Regions from separate parts of the Homo sapiens genome. Here region 1 is linked to region 2. Evidence: fine-mapped expression QTL. Tissue or cell type: subcutaneous fat. Region 2 holds a variant in brackets; the other region holds the start of a gene. All regions are shown on one strand. Distances are between the middles of the regions.

Region 1 (11,070 bases), 96 kb after region 2:
AGGTTTTGTTTTTTCCTTCCAACAAAGACTCTTGAAAAATCAAGACAATACGCTCTCGGAAATTATAAGCAAAAAGCATATCAGGTTTAACAGACTATGGGCAATTAACATCAAGGGTATCTACATAGTCTGATATCTATAGATTTCCTTTAAATGATTCATAACAACAAAAATTAACATGTTATAAAATGCATTTACATAAAGTCTTTTAGATGGAGATTGCTTATATACAGTCCACATATTAAAAAATTAAAAAATAAATATTAAAACCTAATGAGTAAAGGCAGAAATTAAAGAGATAGAAATGTAATTTCAGAAGGCTGAATGGCAGGATTTCACAAGCTGGCACCATCATTTGAGTTGTCAATTTAGTAGATCCAGTAAGTTGATATTTTCCACACAGTTAGAACCAGGGCAAGGCTCAGAGCCTCATGCCTGTAATCCTAGCACTTTGGGAGGCCTAGGCAGGACAATCAGTTGAGGCCAGGGGTTCGAGACCAGCCTGGGCAATATGGTGAAATCCTGTATCTACAAAAAATACAAAAATTAGCTGGGTTTGGTGATATGCACCTATAGTCCCAGCTACTCAGGAGGCTGAGGTGGGAGGATTGCAAGAGCCTGGGATGTCGAGGCTGCAGTGAACTATAATCGTGCCACTGCACTCCAGCCTGGGGGACAGAGTGAGACCCTATCTCAAAAAAGAAAAAAAAAATCAGTTCCAACGTGGTTGATTAGCTATTATTCAAACTCACAAGAGACAACATATTCATTTAGTATGGAGCCAGAAAGTTACCCCGTTATCTGCTACCCATACTACTTCCCTTCCCATACCCACACACTGGGGAAGTCAAACTAGTCATCAAAACACAGCTTGGTCAGAACTAATCCAAAGCAAAGGGAATCAGACTGATTTGTACTTGAATTGGTACTCTTGCAACCTTGACAGTGGGGGTTTAATACATCACTGGGGTTCAAGATACTCTGCTACTTACTAGCTATGACCTTGGGCAAGTTACTTACCTGGTAAGTGTCTCAGTTTCCTCATCTAAAAAAATGGGAATAATAGTAGTACCTACTTCATGATGTTGTTTTGAGAATTAAATGAGTTGAGGGAGTGTATAAAGTGCTGTTATCAATACCTAGTACATAGTAAATGCTGTATGTGAGCTCATTTGCATTAGTTGTGGGAGGCATTTCGGGCAAAAATGAAGAAAACTCTCTATGTGCACCTCCCTTTTATGGCCAGATTATTCATATGTGCTGGGTTCCTTGGAAAGATATTTTTCCCTTTTTGTTACAAAGTGGCAAGGTGAAACCAAAACAGAAAGAGGATAAGTATGCTTCAGGGATAGAAGTCTAAATTCAAGAAATCCATATAGAACATCTCTGCTCTCTGACTTCAACATTTAATTAATTTCAATGGATTACATTGCTAATACTTCCTAATTGGGTCAACTGGACTTCACCACTGTTCCCTCATCTCTCCGAAACCTATTTGTGTAAGGAACTGTGCAAGGTGTCTTACAAATGGAGTTGGACAATGGCTTTAGTGAATTCTATAAATTGGATTCTGTACATCTGTAAATTATGCTGACAGGCACTTCTATAACACAATGAGGTCAAAACAGTCTCACCGAAAATGGTCTTTTCATGCTGTATCCAACCCAAAAACGGCGAAAGGATCCTAAAGGTACCATGGCATATGTGCAGAAAAAGTTGATAAATTCAATCCAAGACAATGGTTACCTTTCAGCCAATTTTAAAGGGACTACCTAATACAAATCTTAAAACTTATAGTAATAGTACCTTAATTAAAGATATTTTATGAAGAACCTACTATGCGAAAATATACTGTGTTACACACTGTAAAGTAAAAGAAAATTATTAAGATACAGTTCATGATTTTAGAGAGTTTGCAGTTTAAAAGAGAGACCAAAATATGCATGCAATTGACTAAAGGAAACAAAACAGAGTATAAATGCCATGAGTCAGAGGCAAAGTTTAGACTGAAAGAACATAGCTGGACTGAATTGATATTCTAAAATTCAATTCATTCATTTAATTGCTATTTCTGGAGTATCTACTATGTGCCAAGTCATGAGACATAGCTGTTCCCACAAAGGGGTGCTAATATCTATAAACTCAATTTTTGACTAGTTTCCAGGTTACAGGGTAGAGAGCAGAAATAGCTTCAGCTTTAGAGTTAGAAAAACCTGAACTAAAACCTTGCCCTACCAATGATACATTGGGTGACTTGGGTAAATAATTTGTCATCTCTTAGCTTCATGTCAGATATCAGAGTGTCATCTTTGATTTCCTCCTCTAACTTCATCCTTCATTTAGTTAATCAACATTAGTCCTTTACTATGTCTGGAATCCATCCCATCCCCGTTAACCCTATATCTTAAGTCCTAACAATAACCCCATGATTTGTTACAGATTCTGTAGCCTAACAAGTCACTTCTCATTATCCACAAGATGTAAGTCTATTGTTCTTAACAAGGCATTTAGGACTTTCAATGAGCTGAACTCTGCTTACATTTTTAACCTCACATGAAAATAATACTCCTCCACATATACTTTACATATCTTTAACTACCAGCCTGTTGGGTGTCTCTGTGCCTCTGTACATGCTATCTTTTTTAAAAAAGAAATAGAATCTTGCTTTGTTTAGGCTGGAGTGCAGTGGTGCAATTACTGCAACCTCAAACTCCTGGGCTCAACAGATCCTCCTACCTCAGCCTCATGAGTAGCTGAGACTACTATTTTATTGTTAATAGAGACAAAGTCTCGCTATCCTGCCCGGGCTGGTCTCAAATTACTGGGCTCAAGTGATCCTTCTGTCTTGGTCTACCAAAGTGCTGGGGTTACAGGTGTGAGCCACCAAGCCCAGCATCTGATGCCATTATTTATATATATGCCGATTGCCTCAACAAGACGAAGCAACTGAGGACAAAGACAAAGCCTTTCACCTTTGAATTCCCAGTCTTAACATAATGTCTGTCACTGAGAAGCTATGCAATAAATGTTTATTGTAGTAATGAAGCCATGTTTAGGGATAAATAGAAAGAACCAAGAAGTGCTTTATGAAGGAGGTGATATTTAATGTTGGCCTTGAAAAGCTTTGAAAATACTCCCTGAATTTTAAATGTGCAATTTTGGGATGCTCAGAGTTTTAACATACATAAATGGGTATGCATATCCTCATGTTGCTCTTCTTTCTTTGTCTCTTGCTCTCTTTCTTCCTTTCTTTCTTTTGACTGAGTCTTGTTGTATGGCCCAGCCTAGATGCAGTGGCACACTCATAGTTCACTGCAGCCTCAAACTGCAGCTCAAGGGTCCTGCTGTCTCAGTTTTCCCAGTAGCTGGAACTATAAGTGTGCACCACTATGCCCAGCTAATTAAAAAAAACAATTTGTTTTAGAAATGGGGTCTTTTTATGTTGCCCAGTCTTGAACTGCTGGCCTCAAGTGATCCTTCCACATAATTGGGATTACAGACGTGAGCCTTTGTACTTGGCTTCATTCTCTCTTTAAAACATACACATTTTGCCAGCTGAAGCTTTGTCTCTTCTATTCAAAGCCCTAAGTGCAATAGTCTGAGCATGGTGAAGACTTAATAAGTGTCTTTATTTCATTTAAAGAAGCATCCTCCTGATGCCTCTTAAAAGAGAAAGACTCTTGATTTCAGGAAGCGTACCATCTTGGTACCTTATGTGGTATCAAAAATAGTAGGCTTTTTAGCTGGGTCATAGATGGCCTTCCTTATGGCTCTACGCTATACCTTTTAGCAAATAGAAATGTTGGTATTCACTCTGTGTATTTAATTTCTCCTGGACACATTAAAAAATACATAAGTAAATATACCTTCGAACCAAAATGGAAAGCACGAGGCAACCCTGGACACCTCACTGCTATTTAACTTAACCCTCCCTAGGCAGATCATATGAGTCCGATTGTAAAAGTATTAATGTGGACATCTTTCCACTCTGGATCAAGTCCATTTCAGGTTATCAGGGATGGTTAAGCTCCTAGCTATTCTAGCAGATTTCTTATGTCTTAATGCATGAAATTAATAATAGTTCCTGGGATATTCCACACTTATCTATTACATGTTTCCACATATTTAAAATACAGAAGGAAAACATGAACACCAATAAAGAAACTATGAGTAACAGAAATCCAGAACACAGTGAAGAAAGAAAGAAAAAAATATATACTGCTGCAGTCAGCTTTTAGGAAAACTGTTTCCATCATTCTGAAAATTTATATTTATTAGAAATAAATCTAATTTTGGCAGCACATCATGGTTAGGAGCCAGGGAAATTGTCATTGGGACCTTAGTATTGTATTTCACAAGAAAGAGAGCTCTGTGAGGAAGCCTGGGCTATCTGCAAACCTTCGACTCGGAAATCCCTGCATAATAAGAAAGGTATTGGCTAAATTTGAGCAGCTCACGCAGTATCTAGAGGAAACATTATGAAGTGGGATAGTGTGGTGTCTGAGATGCAGTTATAGGTATACAGACATGACTCAAGGCGTGGATTAGGAAGGCCAACTTTGGAGGGGAGGGCTGGCTCGCTCATTTCTCTTCTCCCTGTCAAATGCTGAAAGGCTGGTTCCAGCCTTTGAGCTCCTGCACTTTGAGAGTTTTCAGCTGGGTTCTCAGGCTGCGTTCACCCGTCGACTTGCTCCAGGCCAAACCAGATTTTGAAAAGGAAGGCAACTTCTTTTTCGCGGCAAACCCTTAAACCCACGCACCTTCTCAAAACTCTGCCCTTCTCAACCCCTGCGCTAGAGTAGGCAGGGCAGAAGGTGCTGAGGAGAGGCTCAGAAGGGGCGGTGGGGACGATCCCCTTTCGAACTGCATTTGTAGCTGCCAAGGAGTAGCCAACAAGCACCAGATTTATGTGCACTTTGAAAGAAGCACCTTCACCATTGGCTTTTTAAGCGGCGCTGTCGCTAGGGAGCGGCTGGTAGGGCGAGCAGCCTCGGGGAGCAGCCCGGGCTGTTTGTTCCGTCACCGGGGAAAGGAGGTACACACAGTCGCGCGCGCACGGACACACACACACACGCACGCACGCACACACACCGGTGGCGAGTTCGAGCCCCGCGGCCCCTGTCCGCCCGCGTGCGCCCCTCGACACAGCTCGCCTCCCGCCCCCTGATTCCTGCTGCTGCCGCCCAGAGGAGAAAGGAACCTCTGCCTCGAATTTCCCCACTGCGCCGGGCGCTGCGGAGAGCGGCGAGGGTGGGCGCGAGGCGGAGAACGCGATGAATGAGTTCTCCCCTCGCCTCGGAGTTGTCTGAGTTGGCGGCGCTGCGCCCAGGCTTCCGGCTCTCAGCGCCCCACGCGCGCGTGGCTCCCCGGGCTGCCACCCACGCCCGCGGCCGGGGCCGAGCCAGCCACGCAGGGCAGCCGAGGCTCCGGAGCTCCTGTCCCGGCCCCAGTCCGGGTAAAAGGAGGGTTGTCCCCAGCGGAGGCGCACAGCCGCGCGTTCTCCCTGCACTCTCTTCGCGGTCCCATCTGTTCCCCATGGCGTCTCATCCGCAAACCCGGATCCAGGCTTACCTGGAGAAGAACAAGATCGGTCCCCTGTTTGAGGTAAGGCGCTGTGGAGGAGGGCAGTCCCGTTGTCTTTAGGGGAAGGGGTGCAGTAATGAAAACAGAACACTCCCAATCCCACCCCTCCCAGGGAAGGAGGGCTAGAGAACCAACGCGCGGGAGAGGGCGCCCTGGGATTCACTGGCATTCGCTCTGTCCCGGCCAGGTGTCCTGGAACGCGGCCGGGCGGGCACTTAGCCAGTTACCTGAACGCGGACAGGTGAGCTCGGGAGGGCCCAGCCTCAGCCTGGCAGGGGAAGTTTTGGCCCTCTGACTGTCCTGCACCTCTCAGCTACATGTTCAGGACCCGGGCAGGCTGAGGCAGGCGACGCATACGGATGCACACACTCAGACTGTGTTGCACACGCACACTTTCTTTTTTGAATTCACGCTATCTTGAGTGTTCGTGTTGGATTTTCTTTTTTCTTTTCTTTTCTTTCCTTCTTTTTTTTTTTTTTTTTTTTTTTTTTTTTAATGAGGGCGGTAATAGAACCCGAAAAGGTGGAGGAGGTGCTTAGCAGTTAATACAATTAACTGGAAGACAGCTGAACTGGTGAGGAGTAGGCTTCAGTCGGTGCGGGCGTGATGAATGAAATTGGCAAACTGAGAGACTGCCATTTGGTCACTGGACGAAAGGAGAGTCCTTTGCACTGCAGACCCCACATGTGTTAGCAGGAGAAAGGGACGGAGAAAGGTTCTGAAAAGCACACACGTATTTGTGGAAGAAGACTATAGCTCTGAGCTGGTTTTGTTTTTTTTTCTCTCTCTCGCCATTAAAGAATTTAAGACAAAAATACAGTAGAAGGAAGAGCGCGAGGACACGAGAAAATGAGAACAAGAGATTGAAGCCTGGCACCAGCAAAGCGTCCCGCGGGTTGCCAGGGTGCTGAGCAGGGGTGGGGCGTGCGGACCGTAGTCAGAAGTGGAGGCCCTTGCGGAGGGACTCCCTTGGTCCCATCCAGTTCAGGGGGCACTGACCGGCGGCGAGAGTTCGCGGGAGGGTCGAGGTGCTCCCGCCTTGCCCCCGCCTTGCCCCCGCCTTGCCCCCGCCCCCCACGTCTCCCAGAAGCAGTTGTAGCTGTTCTTAACAGCTTGGTTTGGGGTGAGGGCTTGGTATGGGGAGGAGGTTACGTGTCAGTGTCTGAGAGAGGCAGAATCGCGGCAAGTGGAAGGGGCTGCACTGGAGATCGCGGAAAACCTAGCAAAGACTGAAGAGAAGCAAGTGAGAACTGTGGAGAACAAAAAAATAATGCGAGTTAATGACCCTGCAAAAAAAGGGCGCGGAGGACAAAGGTGTGGTCCAATAGGTCTTTTGGGAGGACGGGTTTCACATAACAAGATTTGCAAGATCTCCTAAGTTTTTTTGCCCAACTTTAACGTTGATCTGTCTTAGACGATAAGACCATTGTTTCAATTGAAGCTCGCATTGTGGGGTGCAGAGTCCTACAATTGCTTTGATTCTTTTTTCTGCCAAAAATGTTAACAAAGGCAATCCATGCAAGAGCGAAATAAAATTGATGGAACTACCAGATTTCTTTTCTTTGCCTTTAGTTTAATGATTATTGATTATACATAATCCTATATAATTTTTTTAAAGGCAGAAGCCTAAAACCTTCTGCAACGCAGTGTATTAATTGCATCGAAAGAATCATAAAATACATACATTTAGAGTGTGTGTTTTCTCTCTACTCTCCTGGAGTATAAAGTACAATTAGCCTGGGAGAATAAATGAATTGTTTTTAATAAATACTGTTTTAATTTGTTATCTTAAAATCCCCAAGATTTTAATAATAATAAAATTAGGAATATATGTAAACTTTCTGCAGAATTAGAAAATAAACTCAAATGGATATTTATGAAGTGCCCCCTAACCCCCACCTTTTGATGCTCACCAGCAAGTTATGCGCTGAAGAATTTTAAGTGATAGCAACGTGTCTCATAAAAGCTTTAGGTCCCCTCACCAAAAAACAAGCACCACCATGCTTCGTATTTTATTGAATACATATGACATACACTGGCATTAGCTTAGATTGCAGTGATGAGTAGTGCATTTTTTAAGGTTTGATGTCCACTTTAAATAATTGAAGGGAGAAAAATGGATAATAAATTCTCTTTTAATAAAAGCTGGATGTAACACAGTTCCTTATGCAACAATTTTGATCATGATAGAGCTTGACTTTGAGAGTACAATTATACGTATTTCACAAAATTGGAAGATTTTACTAGCGTGTAGCCTACTTGTTTCATGTTAGAAAACCAGTGCCACCTGTGAAATGGACATTGTTGACCTAGAGACCGTCCATTCTCTTCTAGGACCTTACTCAATAGTTTTCACAGGAATTGATTTGGGTCAGAGGAGGTGCCCAGCAATCTGAACATATTTAGAAGCAGCACAAATGTTTGCTACAATTTTAATTTCTGGGCCACATTTTGAGAAACTGAGCTAAAATCTCCTTTTACCACTCACAAATTGAAATTGGCCGCTTCATGTCTTGTCATCTATGCTTTGTTGTGTTGAGTCAGTGTAGCTGACACAGGCTTCTTTCAGTTTGGAAAATATGCGGTATCTGATAATATGTCCCCCTTGTGGATAGTTTAAGTTAGGAATGTTTTAAGAAAACTTAATTGGTATGAGATACTTTAAAGATAATCTATGAATGTTTTTTAAAACAATAGCAAAAAGTAACCTATTCACTGATATTGAGAATACTTGATCCTCTTTTTTACCTGTAGGGCTTATTTACCTAGTTTGTTCACTTAGTTTATTTCTTACTTAGTTTATTGCTAATATTTTATGATTTGAGATGCTTATTAAAGTGTTACATGCAGTATGGTGTTTCAAAATTTATTTTAAATTGAAATTAATTTTGTTTCCAGCTGACTCAGGTGAATAAATTTGTACTACTTTTAAATTTCATTGAAGATGTTTTGGAGCATTACAAAACTATGCCTAAAAATCATTGCATTAGAATTCTGGACAATGATATTCTGATTAGATAATATGAAGGTGTAAGATGAAAAATACATTTCACAAACTTTCTAATTTTTGTAAGATGTAATGGTTTACATCTTACAAGATAAATATTTGTAATATATATAAATATTATATATAGTGGAATATATATATTCCATGTATGTTTGTGTACACACACATTTTATATAAAGAAATAGAAACTTTTGAGTTTCTCCCATTATTGATTGGAAGAGTGCTCAGGGCAGTTATATATCTTGGTTCAGGCCTGATCACACTCACAAGAGTGTGAAATCTTAAGTTACTAAGAAGCCAAATAGTGGGGATCTTCATAAAATCACCATGGAATTTTTAAATTTGTGTACTGAAGATGTGGCAAACAAAAGTCACTACATTTCTCTAAGTATGGTATGACCCACTCCAAATAGAATGGAATCACTATCACCTTCTCTGTTCCACTCAAAGTGCTTCTACTCACATGGTGTAAATTTGCATTAACTGATTTGGCATATATGTTATAAAATGGACTTATCAAACTTATGATCAAAGCCTGCATCACTTATATATTTTGCTGTTGCCCAGCTTGCTCTTCTCTGGTACCCCACGGCACTTCTTCCAGCCATGTATGCAACCCTGAACTCCAATTTGCTGCCAACCCTCAGCAAGCCCATTATTTCACTTTATTGACCTCCCTGATCATATCTAAAAAATGCTCCTTGCGTTTATCAGAGAGCTGTAGTGTCTGCGGAGATCTCCTTTCGTTGTTCCCCCTCTCATAAGGATCACAGCCGTGGGCTACCTGTTATTTAATACATGAAAAGAAATATTTTTGTCTAATTTAGGCAGGCTTATGATTGTTTAGGGCAGTTGTTTGGGGATAAGAAGGATACTAGTTACTCACTTATGGCCAGAGGTAAAATACCCCTCCAGAAAGATATTTTAATGTTTAAAAATAATTTGTCGTTAATAAAGGTAAAAGTGTCATTTTAATAAAAATGATTAGGAAAATGCTTTTATTAGAGAAGTAATAAAATATAAGCTTGGTAGTTATAATATGTTCAACTTAAATATTGTAAATATATTTTTTGGAGTAATGATTGTCAGGTGATCTTCCCCAGTGCTCAAAGTTATGAAGACTTTTCCTATATCAAAATTTGCATTAATCTTTATAATCTCAGAGCATTTAGAGGAGGCAGAAGACAAAGCAGTTCCATTTTATAAAATTTTGCCTAGAGTCCAAGTTAAGTGTTGTCATTGACTTACTTCAAAACAGTTTTTTAAAATGTTACTTTAATTAACATGTTTCTATTACCAGCCCATTTATTTTTCATTTCTGCCTTAATGTATTTTATTTTCATGCAGCTTTTAAATAGCTTAATAAAGTGACCCAAAATTCAATTCAATAAATCACTATATAACCTTAGAAATAGTAATATGTACATATACCAATATGGCATCAATAAATTTGAAAAAAGAAATAATATTTTGGGCAGGCATGGTGGTTCATGCCTGTAGTCCCAGCACATTGGGAGGCTGAGGCAGCTGGATCACTTGAGGTCAGGAGTTTGAGACCAAAGACCAGCCTGGCCAACACAGTGAAACCACATCTCTACTAAAAATTCAAAAATTAACCAGGCATGGTGATGCACACCTGTAATCCCAGCTCCTCGGGAGGCTGAGGCAGGAGAATTGCTTGAACCCAGGAAGTGGAGGTTGCAGTGAGCCAAGATTATGCCATTGCACTCCAGCCTGGGCAACAGAGGGAGACCCCATTACAAAAAAAAGAAAAAAAATAGTATTTTAATATTTGTGGGTCTCTCTTAAGAGAATGTGATCAATGGAAATATGAGACTACAAAAATAACATAGGCTTTCCTCCCTTTTTTTTTTCATAATTCAATTAAGAAGCCATGAACCATACAAAGAGAACAGCTAAGACTACAGCTAAGACCCATATGACAAGGAGAGCTAAGTTGGGAGTTCACCTGGAAAGTATCAGAGCACAATTAAAGAAAGGGGCTGAGTGGGCAGTGGCCTGGCAGGGTCAGAAGATTTGTTACGTACAAGGTGGGGGCAGGGTATTCAGAAAATAATTAAATATATTGAAAAAATATATATTCAAGTCAGCCTTCTTACTGATGGACATAGGAGTCACAGAGATAGTATAGGGAAAGCTAGAATGAACCTTGTTGTGTTGGATTGAAATTGGAGGTGTTGGTGTGATCTCATGACTTTCAATAATAGAAACAGGTATAGATGTAATAGAAACAAATATAGATTTGTATGTATTTACATATACTTAAGTGCATATACCTACATTTACTTCCCAACTCTGTCTACTGGAAGGGCCTGGGAATAACAACATCCTGGTAGCAATGAGCACACCTAGCATCCACATTTTGGTTTCTAAATACCATTCTCCATTAAGTAGAACCAGGTGTCCTTGAAGAAATGGTTGATTCCAGGTTTGGGGCTAAGCAAGGTTTGGAGTATCAT
Region 2 (11,070 bases):
CTACGTGACTAAGCCCATTGTGCCTTTTCAATCATTAGGCAGCACTGTCAGGGAAATAAGAGGAAGGAAATTAAGAAGAAAAAGAGCCTCCTTATTCTTTCATTATCCCAGCCCTGGGAATGCAATTTGAAGTAACACCATATTCTTCAGCTGCAAAAGAACCTTTGAAGTACATCGGGTCAATTGAATGTATTCTTTTCTCTGGGAAGGATGAAATAAGCTTCTTCTGATGTGAGATGTCTTTATTTCAGTATTCGCCTCTTGCATGGAGATAACATGTAGTGCATCAACCACCTTCCGGACTTGAAATACGTTTTGCAAACCTCCAAAGTCAATAGCTTCTTCTACGTGTTCTCATACTAGGAAAGCTCATTTTGTTAACCAGGAGTTATAACTCAATATTAAATCTTGCTCATTCTTCTCCTTTGATCTATAATTAGCATGGGATTAAATGTCAAAGGGAGAGGAAATTTATAATTTGCTAAATTGATCAACAACATTGAAGCTGTTTTCAATTTAGTCGGTAAAAGGGATTGAATCACCACAGCTAGTCCTGGGTTGTAGTGCTTTTATGAAAAGATGCCATGTGGAAATCTGCAGCTTATATTTTGACATCATTAGTCCAAGCTCTGCAGTGGGACCAGTGTGGCCATGGGTGCTGTTTAGAGAACAGGCATAGTCCAATCCAGCATTTTAGTTCAGCCAATCAATCTCTCAGGATATGCTGTAAGTAATGCATATGGCCTTGAGATCACTAGGGCTATCAAGCAGCTATTATGTTCCCTTTTACTTTGGTTCTGCTGTTATCATTTAACCACTGAGGAGAATGTGGAGCACCAGAACTTGTGTGACTGTAGTTAAACCCCCTGAGTTTTCCTTGAATGCTGTATAGTCTTGAACAACTAGACCTGGGCTGCAATGGGAAGCATTTCCAGGCATCTCCATGGTTTAAGTGGATCCTTGACCCACTTGGAGAGCCCACAGTCGGGTGAGTGGGCCCTGGGCAGAGCTGGGTAATTTATCCTTAGGAAACTCTAGCCAATTGTGCCTTTGAGATTTAGGTCTCAGGAATCTTGCCATGTCAGCCTATCCACAGCCAACTGCCTGCACTCTGGGGATAGTACAAAATGAAGCACATTTCTAAAACAAGTCAGAAAATCAGTAGACCCCTATGAGATAGGTGCCATCTTGCTACAAAATAATCATGATAGACATGATGGTAATTATCGTAATAATATCATTTCCTGGAATCCAGAGAGTAGGTTTTACCACAAGTGTGGTGAACAGCCTGGGCGGTTGGCACTGGAGAAAAAGCAGCAGGTTTAAAAAATTCAGGATTGCTTCATCCACAGCCATCAAGCTATGCAGAGGGGCACTGGTGTTTTCTAAATCATAGAATCTAATTTTTGGAGTTTGCCAATTCATATGTTATTTTTAGTGAAATAGACAATCCGATCATGACTCACGAAACAAGAAATTATCATCAATGTATTTGTTCTACCAATAAAGACACCTCATGTAATGGTAATACACTAAGTCACTGTCAAACTTTACCATGCCTTTTCTAGGCTGTACAAGCTGTGCGAGCCACCTCCCCCAGCTGGAGAAGAATGAAAAGAACTCCCAAGAAACCAGGCAGGCAGAAGCTCCTGAATGCTGGACTAGACAAACTACATGCTGGCTAAACATTCTCCACTGAAGATACATCAATGCTTTTTTTTTTTTTTTTTTCTGTAAATCTTTCTTCCCATTGCAAACAAGTAGTGATCAGTTTATACTTTGATATTTATGCTGGAAATGGATAGAAGTTCAATCAGACAGTTCAGCTTCACGAACTGATGTCTCTCTGTATTGACATTAAGTATTCACTTTTAGAGTAAAATCCATCCCTGGGACATAAAGAAAAAAATATTAGAGATTTAAAAATTAACCACCATGCCTCCTCTCCCATTCATTAAAATGGTTTTATTATGCTTGTTTTCATCTTTCCCAAGTGGACACATGTAATAATGGAGAGTTCCTCTTGAAGAAGGCCATTATTGAAGAAACCTGGCGACATCTTGCAAATCATCATGAGAAATGTTAAGGACAATATAGACTGTGTGCTATACATTTTCAGTCCCCCATTTGCAAGAGAGAAAGTCATTAATGTGTAAAAGGTGGAAAAGCATGCTTTACTCTTTCTCCTAAGGGCTTATTTCTTATTAGAGGAGAAGAAAGCTGACTAAGGCCTCCAGCAGGACTCACTTTCTTCTAGCTGCCTTTGGGCATCCTTTATTCTTGTGGACAGCTCTAGCAAATCAATGCTATTTTTGGTGTCTGCAATGGGCATGGCTTCCTTGGGCCATGAATACTGGGTGCTGTGCCATAATGGCCCTGGGGATCAGGGAAGTGCCCTGGGGATCAGGGAGGGGAACCAGGATGAAGAAGGGGACTGTAAGCCTATTTTAAAACTAAACCTTTAAGTTAGATACCTAAAACTCTTAATTTTATGAAGGCTCTCATATGAGAGGTCAGACTCTTCAAAGAATACACCATCATGAGAATTTTTCTGTTAAGATATATGTATAAGATATGAAAATAAGGCTTTATTTGTACTTTAAAAGGACCATTAGGGGACTTGTAATTTATGGATGCACAAGGTGTATTCTATCCTTATTCTAAAGTATATGTAATGTTTATCATTTCTACATTGATGCAATAACATTGTTTTTAGCATAGTAAATACAGTAATATTTATTTTAAATCCATAATTTTCAAACAAAACACTCATGATTGTGATAATTATATGGGTTTACACTAATTTAGTATGTGAAATGCTTTTCATATCTAAATTATGTGCAAACTATTATTAATTTTTTTTTTATTTTTTGAAACTGAGTCTCACTCTGTTACCCAGACTGGAGTGCGGTGGTGCAATCTTGGCTCACTGCAACCTCCACCTCCTGGGTTCAAGCCATTCTCTTGCCTCAGCCTCCCAGGAGCTGGGACTACAGGTGTGCACCACCATGCTCAGCTAATTTTTGTATTTTTAGTAGAGACGTGTTTTCACCATGTTGGCCAGGCTGGTCTTGAACTCCTGACATCAAGTGATCCACCCACCTCAGCCTCCCAAAGTGCTAGGATTACAGGCGTGAGCCGCTGCTCCCGGCCCATTATTAAATTTTAATTTATGAAATTTGATCATGGTTTTCAAACTATTATTAAAACCTTTATCATTAACCATTATGTATTGAATAACAAAAATACCATGTTACATGTGTAGGCAATATGTGTATACTACTAGGTAAGGTAATAATAATTGTTATTTGGCACAGAAGCTCTAGAGACTTTTGTGAGAAGTCCATATACAATGAAAAACAAGGAACCTAACATCAGAGTTTTCAAGAAAAAGTTGAACATTTTGAATTTAATAAAGATATCTTTACAAAAATAACCTTCAAGGATTTAACATTTGTAGGACTAATAAAGGAACACAGCTGATTAGCTAGCAAGTCCTTTCATATTGTCATGACTGTTTTCTCATCACCATCCTGGAAGCAGTAATCCTCATTAGAGGCATGCAAGGGTCATTAAAATGATTTCAGTTGTACTTTGCCATATTTCATGGGGCAAATTATCAGCTATATTGTGGTATTTATAAGCTAACATATTTTATATTTTTAAGGATCTACTTTCTTCATAATAGAATGTGCTTCATATTATTTTTAGGGTTAAACATAAGTGTGTCGTCTATCATGCTTGGTACTTACTAAATGCTCAAAAATTAGTAATGGTTTATATTAACATCAGTCACTCTAACTTCTGATCGTAATAAAAATTGTAGCTAACACTTATTAAGGGATTACTACATGCCCAGTAATACCTCCAAATGCTTTGCCTGTATTCTGTTGTTATTGCTTCACTTAATCCTCATAATAATGACGTGACATGGTACTCTTTTTATCGCGCCCATTTTTAGAGTTGAGGAACCAAAGCAAAGAATAACCCAGTGACTTGCACAAAGTCACATGATTGACAAGGGGTAGAACCAAAATTTGAACCCAGGAAGTCTGCCTTCTTAATGCATTATGCTACTTTTCCTTATCAATATAAGAACTATTGTAATATTACGATGATTTGTAAGTAAATTTGGAGTTATGCGGCATGTGTTGTCATTAAATTATACATCTTGTATTAAAAAACGGTGAATGGAAATATGTAAATGCTTTAATTATATGAAAATTATAGTGTTTCCTGGACATTTTACAACTCTGGATGCACATTTTGAGGTAACTCAACAGTGTTGCAATCTGAAAAACTATTTTGTATCATGTTCCTCCTCATCAAAAATAACAGTTTTAGATAGTACATCTCATACAACTTTATTATAATTCCAACACAGTGGTAAGAGTAAAAAACATACCTAATGGATGAATGAATAATGACAATTTTTTCAATGCCATATGTACCTCCATGTGACATTGGGCATTAAATGGCCTTGAGGTTTTAGGATGTGTTTACCTTAATGCTACATGCTCCTCTATAACCAGTGCACCTTCAAATACTGCTAAAACCTGCTAACTTCTTCCAGGTTCTGAGCATGGACAACTCCCACCGCCCCCCAACCTAAAAGGGAAGGTCATGCATAGAAAGTTTGGATTTTAACTTAGAGCCTGACTCAAAAATAATTGTGAACTAAAAATTCATAGTCAATACTTTTTAAGCATTCTATTATCTCCTATAATTTTTTCTAATATTAATTCCAAATATTACAAAATTTAATGTGATATTAAAGTATGAAAAATTTGAGAAGATTAGAATTTTACATGTATTTCCATTCCTATTTAAAGAGAGAAAATGGGGAGATAATTTCTGTGCTAGTTTTACTTATATTGGATATATAATATTGAATTTATAGTATAAGCTTTATTTTATCAGTTCGCAAATCTGAAGTCTCATACTGTTTTCTGTCTCTTTAAAACACATTCTTCTGGTGGCTTGGGTTCATTGTGCATTCATTGGCCACTCTTCTTGCAGCAAATTTTAAATCAATTTAAAATTAGGTAAACTTTTTATGATACTATAATATATATGACGTTGAAATGACATTGGTTCTGAGTCTATTAATTTAAATTTTGGGATCATTACATTCAGAATGAAATGAAATTGACCTTGATACTAACTTTGAGAGCCAAAAAAATGAATGGGTAAACAAAGCCTAAGGGTCATGTTAATTAATTTAACAAAACACACTATTTTCAGTCCTTTGGGCTTGTACATTTTATAGACAAAATTAG[C/T]ATTTATTGATTTGGAAGTGTTCAATTGAGAGTAAATGACTCTGTGTTTTGAAACTAATACCTTTGCATTTAAAATACTGAAGTATTATTTTGTTAGTTGAAGTAGATCTTTTCCTGTGTAGCATGATTTAATGCAGAGCAGTTATTCACTTATACTTCTGAAAAGCCATAATATTGAAATTTAAAATGAATAGTCTTACTTTAAGGTCACTTTTACTTTACATTTTACTTTAAAGGTCGTTTTTAGACTTTATGCACTAGTGGTATTGAAACTAACCTTTAATATTTGACTAAATTGCTTGTGAATTTTTGGAAACTATGTTTAATTTTTAAAGACATTGTTATGTGAATTATCTTACTAAATTATCACTTAAGAACTCTCTCATAGCAGTAATTTCATTAACACATATATATACTAACCAATTTGCTAAATGAATTGTCGGTTGTCCTGCTTAAGTACTAGGGCCAAGCTTTGAAATGACTTAAAGTGATCTGAATTTTGATTGAGAAAAATAATCTGTCTTCTATCGAATGTTTGAACTTTTAGTGATGAGCCTCAGCAAAGTTTCACCCTGCATGAAGCAGAACAGGTGGGGGAAAATTACAAGAGGGGTCTGTACCAAAAATGGCCCCAGGATATTCCATTGAACAAATATTGACCATTATCTTCCTAGGTGCTACAACTCCATACTAGTCATTACAGTTAGTCTTTGGTTTCACAAAAATGTTACTGCTTCAAAGGCTTGGCATTAACAGTGATGTCAGCATTCATACTGCCAACAGTCTGCTGGTCATACATGGAAGACTGTTAAAGTGTGGTCTGTGCATCATTGAGCAATTGTTATGTAGACACAAGGCCTGCTTCACTCAGGATAGCTTGCTCCTCTCGCTGAGAAGAGATACCTGAAGTCTACTAAGTCTACTAAATGAGATATATATGTGTATGTATATGCCTATATATATTATTATATTTACTAGTGTTTGTGATAATGTTATAAAAATTAATAAGATTGTTTTGTTTTGTATGAATGTACGACAAATCGAGTTGTTCAATGTATTGAATGAATGTCTTACTGTAAGCATCAGAGCTGTCCAACCATGTGTAAATGTACCTGGTCTTTTGATCACTGACACTACTTTGCTGTTCAATCTGGAATCAACTGACCTGGCTCTGCCATTGAGAAATAACTAATTTAGAACAAAATTGTTAAATTTTAAAATTGCATTTCTACTAGAAATAGCTTTGGAGAGTTAATTTTAGGTGCGAATAACAGGATAAATGCTATCTGATCAAGCATTCATCCGAAAAATGTTTTTGAGAATTCACTTTGTGCAAGGCACAGCTGTTGGGGCTGGTATATGTGTGGACATGTTTGATTTGAAAACCTTCGTGGTGTCTCTGTGTGTTATTGATCATCTGTGTCTTTTGCTTAAAATGGCATTATTTGTAACACAAACCTAATATCATATATACAAATATACTGTATGTAGCCAAGAACACTAAATTGGTAAGACGCTTTAGAAAATATGCATTTGAATTTGAATATCTAATGCCTCAAGCAAATTTATTAGAGTTTCAGATGAATATATATTTTTGTAACTGGCAAGTAAATGAGTAGAACAGAGCTTTTTGCCTAAAAATATTTTTATAAGTACTCATTTACATAGTATTCATTATTTTAAATGACAAAATATCAAATTGGTTCTATAAATAGTAATTGTTTTGAATATATCCATACTTAACATCATATGAAATCCAAAATTTAATGATAAATTTCATCTGGATGTGTTATTATAAAAGTCATCTTTTTTTCCTTTGTAAAATATCCATGTAACATAGCTTCCATTACTCCATATTTTATGTATGGTTAAAATTATCAAAGTGCATTATGTATTTTATATTGTTTATTTTTGTCTGCATGAAAGATTGGAATAGTAACCGTGTATGATAAATGTTAATAATAATAAAGTGAAATGTAGTATGACCAATTCAGCTTCTTTCCATTTAAACTTAATTCCTATTATGTTCTTACCTATTTGGAGGACAAAAACCGTTAAACACAGATTTTCACCCTTCAAGCATTCACAAGCTCGATAGAAGAAACTTGACACACGTATGAAACAAATTCTACAAATATGAGCTGGAGGGACAGTAACTGCTAGGAAGGAATGAGAGAGAAGCTTAATATGGGCCACAGCATAGGAAAACTTCACGAGAGAAAAGAGACTTACACTGTCCCCTGAATTAACTAGCCAACCTATCAAGGTTTATTTAGTACTTATTATGTATCAGCCACTATCCTAGTTGCTAACGGTATAAAAATGCACATAATTCCCAAACTCTAGGGTCATAGAGGGTGGTATATTTAAGATGATTAATGCAGTACACAATCCAAAATGGCAACTACCAAGACAAAGCAGTGGACACTAATGCAAAATGAGAGAGAAGGCAATGAGAAACATGGACTATAGAATTCAAAAAATTTAGATTGAATCCAACATCTGTTTATGGAACATCTACAGATTACTTGTCATGCACTGAACTAAGATGGATATTTAGTATGTAGGAACACATGTATAGTCATTACCTTTATGAAATTTACAGTCTAAATGAGGAAAACTGATTAAAAAAAAAAAACTACAAAAATGATGAGAGAAGCCTGGGTCAGGAAAGGTCATCAGCATTCAAGATGAGTAAGATTAAGCAACAGAAGAAGGGAACAGCAACCTTGTTAACAAAAACAGGATGAATACATGCACTGAGATGAAAAAGCACCAGATATTTTGGTGGGATGGTGAGTGGCTCAGTCCGGACAGATGATAAACATCAGTGGATGTGCTTAGAAAGAGACATGGATAGAAAATACAGCTGGATCTGGAATGCCAGGCTAAGAAGTCAGGACACTGGACATTATGAGCATTCAAAAAATGAGATAAATAGTTGATAATAATGATAAAAATTATGAAATCCAAGTGGGGAGTTTGAAGAATGTATACGTTGTTGATTGTGCAGGCTACTTCAAAAAAGTCAAATCAAATAATAATTGGAGGAAACCAAAATCAATAACTGGTTTTACTTTTTGGAGATTGCTGGTATACTTCGAGATTGCAGATTTAATACAGTAATATGAGTGAGAAAATAGAATCAGCAGGTGTAGCTTCTTTATTTCAGAACAGCATTCCAGACATTTATGTTCCAGAGTTGTTATTCAGTGAGATACACACACACATACACACACACACACATACCCCATACAAGTATTTTGTGGTGAAAATGAGTTTAAGAAACACAGAATCAAGCAGGTTTCTCTATTATAGGACTTTTCCAACCTGCTAATATACTAATAACCATGGTGACTTTGGAGGACAATGATGGTATGCAATGTTTCCCAAATGCACTAGAATATAGGACATGTTTTATGGAAGATTTGTTATGATTTCCTTGGTATACAAATATTCATCAAAGCACAATATGGGAAAACTATGCTAGAAACTGCATAACATGAAGAAAAAAATGGTAAGCACATTGACAGATGGTGGGGTATTTACCTGATGGAGGTGCCATTTGGGCTTAAAGGAAGAAGTGACAAATACTTGCATAAATGAACAGTAACAGTGAAATAGAATTAAAAGCAGATTGTGATACTGTAAGTTTTATTCTCTCACCATTCATCTAGGTTCAGGGTATTAGAGGCCACAAAAAGCATATTCCATAGAAAAATGGAAATGTTTCCTCTCCTTTTTAATCACTTCAGCCTTCTAATATGATGACATATTGGATTAGAAGACACTTTATTGTGTCAAAACTTGGCTCCAATTTACCATGATTTCTGGACTAAATTTGTAAGGCTTGATGGCCATGACCAGGGTGTCATGAGTTAGACAACTTGAAGGTAAAAGACTGATTTTTCTTCACAAAAAGTATTAAAAAGATATATGCTAAGTGTGGAGTTTTCTAGCCTGACACTGGTTGGGCATTTTAAGATGATCTGAATGCAGTGGTATAAACAGCTCATTGATTTCTCGAAGCCAGTTGATGATATGGACCTCCAGGTCTGGAAAGGTATTTGTCTCACCTAGGGTCAGCCTCAAGATTCCTTGAGATAGGACATTTCCAGATCGAAATGTGGACCCATTTGCTATTAATCAAAGTGAATATATGGGAGGAAGTTTCAGTACAAGACTCTCTAGATATTCATCAAGTCAGAGGCTTCTTAGACTTGCTGCCCTTGACTCACTATGTTGCTCTCATTCAGAAGAGGCCTGTGAACTCTTTGCCAGAAAGTGATAAAATAAATTATTCCAGAGCTGTGTGCTCCGAGAAAGAAGGCAGTGATCATCACATGATATAAGAGAGTGTTCTGTTTAGGGCACTTTAATTCAGAGGGATGAAGACAAGTGAGGATATAAATAATGGTCAGAGGATGACTAAGGACATGCAGGAATTGATTGCCAGGAAATGTTAGGTCTGCTAAAAACTGCTGCTGCTCTTAACTGCCCACATGTTGATTCACTTAAAAATGTTTACCCCAGAGATTAGACATTAGGATGTTACCTCACTTTAGCAATGAGGGATCTGGAAGCTGTAAGTGAATACGGAGGAAAAAAATAGGCTGTATGATGATATAAAAAATGGCTGTATTAGTTTGTTTTTACTCTGCTGATAAAGACATATCTGAGACTTGGCAATTTACAAAAGAAAGAGGTTTAATGAAAGGACTTACACTTCCACGTGGTTGGGGAGGCCTCACAATCATGGTGGAAGGCAAGGAGGAGCAAGTCACATCTTATGTGGATGGTGGCAGGCAAAGAGAGAGCTTGTGCAGGGAAACTCTTCCTTATAAAACCATCACATCTCATGAGACTTACTCACTATCACAAGAACAGCACAGGAAAGACCTGCCCCCATGATTACCTCCCACCAGGTCCCTCCCACAACACGTGGGAATTCAAGATGAGATTTGGATGGGAGCACAGCCAAAGTATATTAGAGGATTTTAGACAAGATCTTTGAAAAACTTTTTTTAAAATAGCTTTAGGGGCTACTGTGCAGTTTTATTACATGCAGTAGTGAAGTAGTGGTGAAGTTGGGGCTTTTAGTGTAACGATCACCTGAATAGTATACCTTGTGCCCATTAAGTAATTTTTCATCCCTCATTTCCCTCCCACCCTCCCACCTTTCTGAGTCTCCAATGTGTATTATTTCCTGAAAAACTTATTTGAATTATATAAAACATCAATTGGAAAGTTAGGATAAGCTTTTCCACTCTTTTAATGAGATGAAATTCATATAACATAAAATTAACCATTTTAAAGTATGCAATTAAGTGGCATTTAATAAAATCACAATGTTGTGTGACTATCATCTTTATCAAGTTCTGAGAAATTTTCATCACCCTCAGTTTTTTTTTTAATGAAACTTTCATTTTGAGACAATTGTAGATTCCCGTTTTTGACAAAGGTACAAAAATAATTCAATGGGGGAAGGATAGAATTTCAATAACTGGTGCTGATGCCACTGGACAACCATAGGCATAAAAATGATACTCAAACTAAAGATTGCTCCTTATACAAAAATCAGCTCCAAATGGATCATGGGCTGGGCGCGGTGGCTCACGCCTGTAATCCCAGCACTTTGGGAGGCCAAGGCAGGCAGATCACGAGGTCAGGAGTTTGAGACCATCCTGGCCAGCATGGTGAAACCCCGTTTCTACTAAAAATACAAAAATTTGCTGGGTGTGGTGGCGGGCGCCTGTAATCCCAACTACTCAGGAGGCTGAGGCAGAAGAAT

Direction of the effects. Alleles are on the strand shown, and positions count from the first base shown. SD is a standard deviation of normalised expression in the study named.
With allele C in place of T in region 2, the expression in subcutaneous fat of the gene that starts at base 5,756 in region 1 is higher (small effect, 0.35 SD a copy in TwinsUK).

What was found. PIP is the estimated chance that this variant, and not a neighbour inherited with it, causes the effect.
Region 1: C8orf34-AS1 starts here. The variant in region 2 is fine-mapped to the expression of C8orf34-AS1 in subcutaneous fat (TwinsUK, PIP 0.95).

Annotation. Positions count from the first base shown.
Region 1 is chr8:68,325,736-68,336,805 of GRCh38, forward strand. C8orf34-AS1 (C8orf34 antisense RNA 1) reads right to left here and starts at 5,756. Exons shown (of 3, transcript NR_038877.1): 1 at 5,572-5,756. C8orf34 (chromosome 8 open reading frame 34) reads left to right here and starts at 5,220. Exons shown (of 14, transcript NM_052958.4): 1 at 5,220-5,604. The coding sequence starts at 5,278.
Region 2 is chr8:68,229,765-68,240,834 of GRCh38, forward strand. It overlaps PREX2 (phosphatidylinositol-3,4,5-trisphosphate dependent Rac exchange factor 2), which reads left to right. Exons shown (of 40, transcript NM_024870.4): 40 at 1,569-7,268. The coding sequence ends at 1,614. Among named protein-coding and RNA genes, the nearest start is that of C8orf34, 96 kb to the right of the region's middle. RefSeq lists an enhancer at 1-186 and a silencer at 9,637-9,837. The variant C/T (reference allele first, on the strand shown) is at 5,280.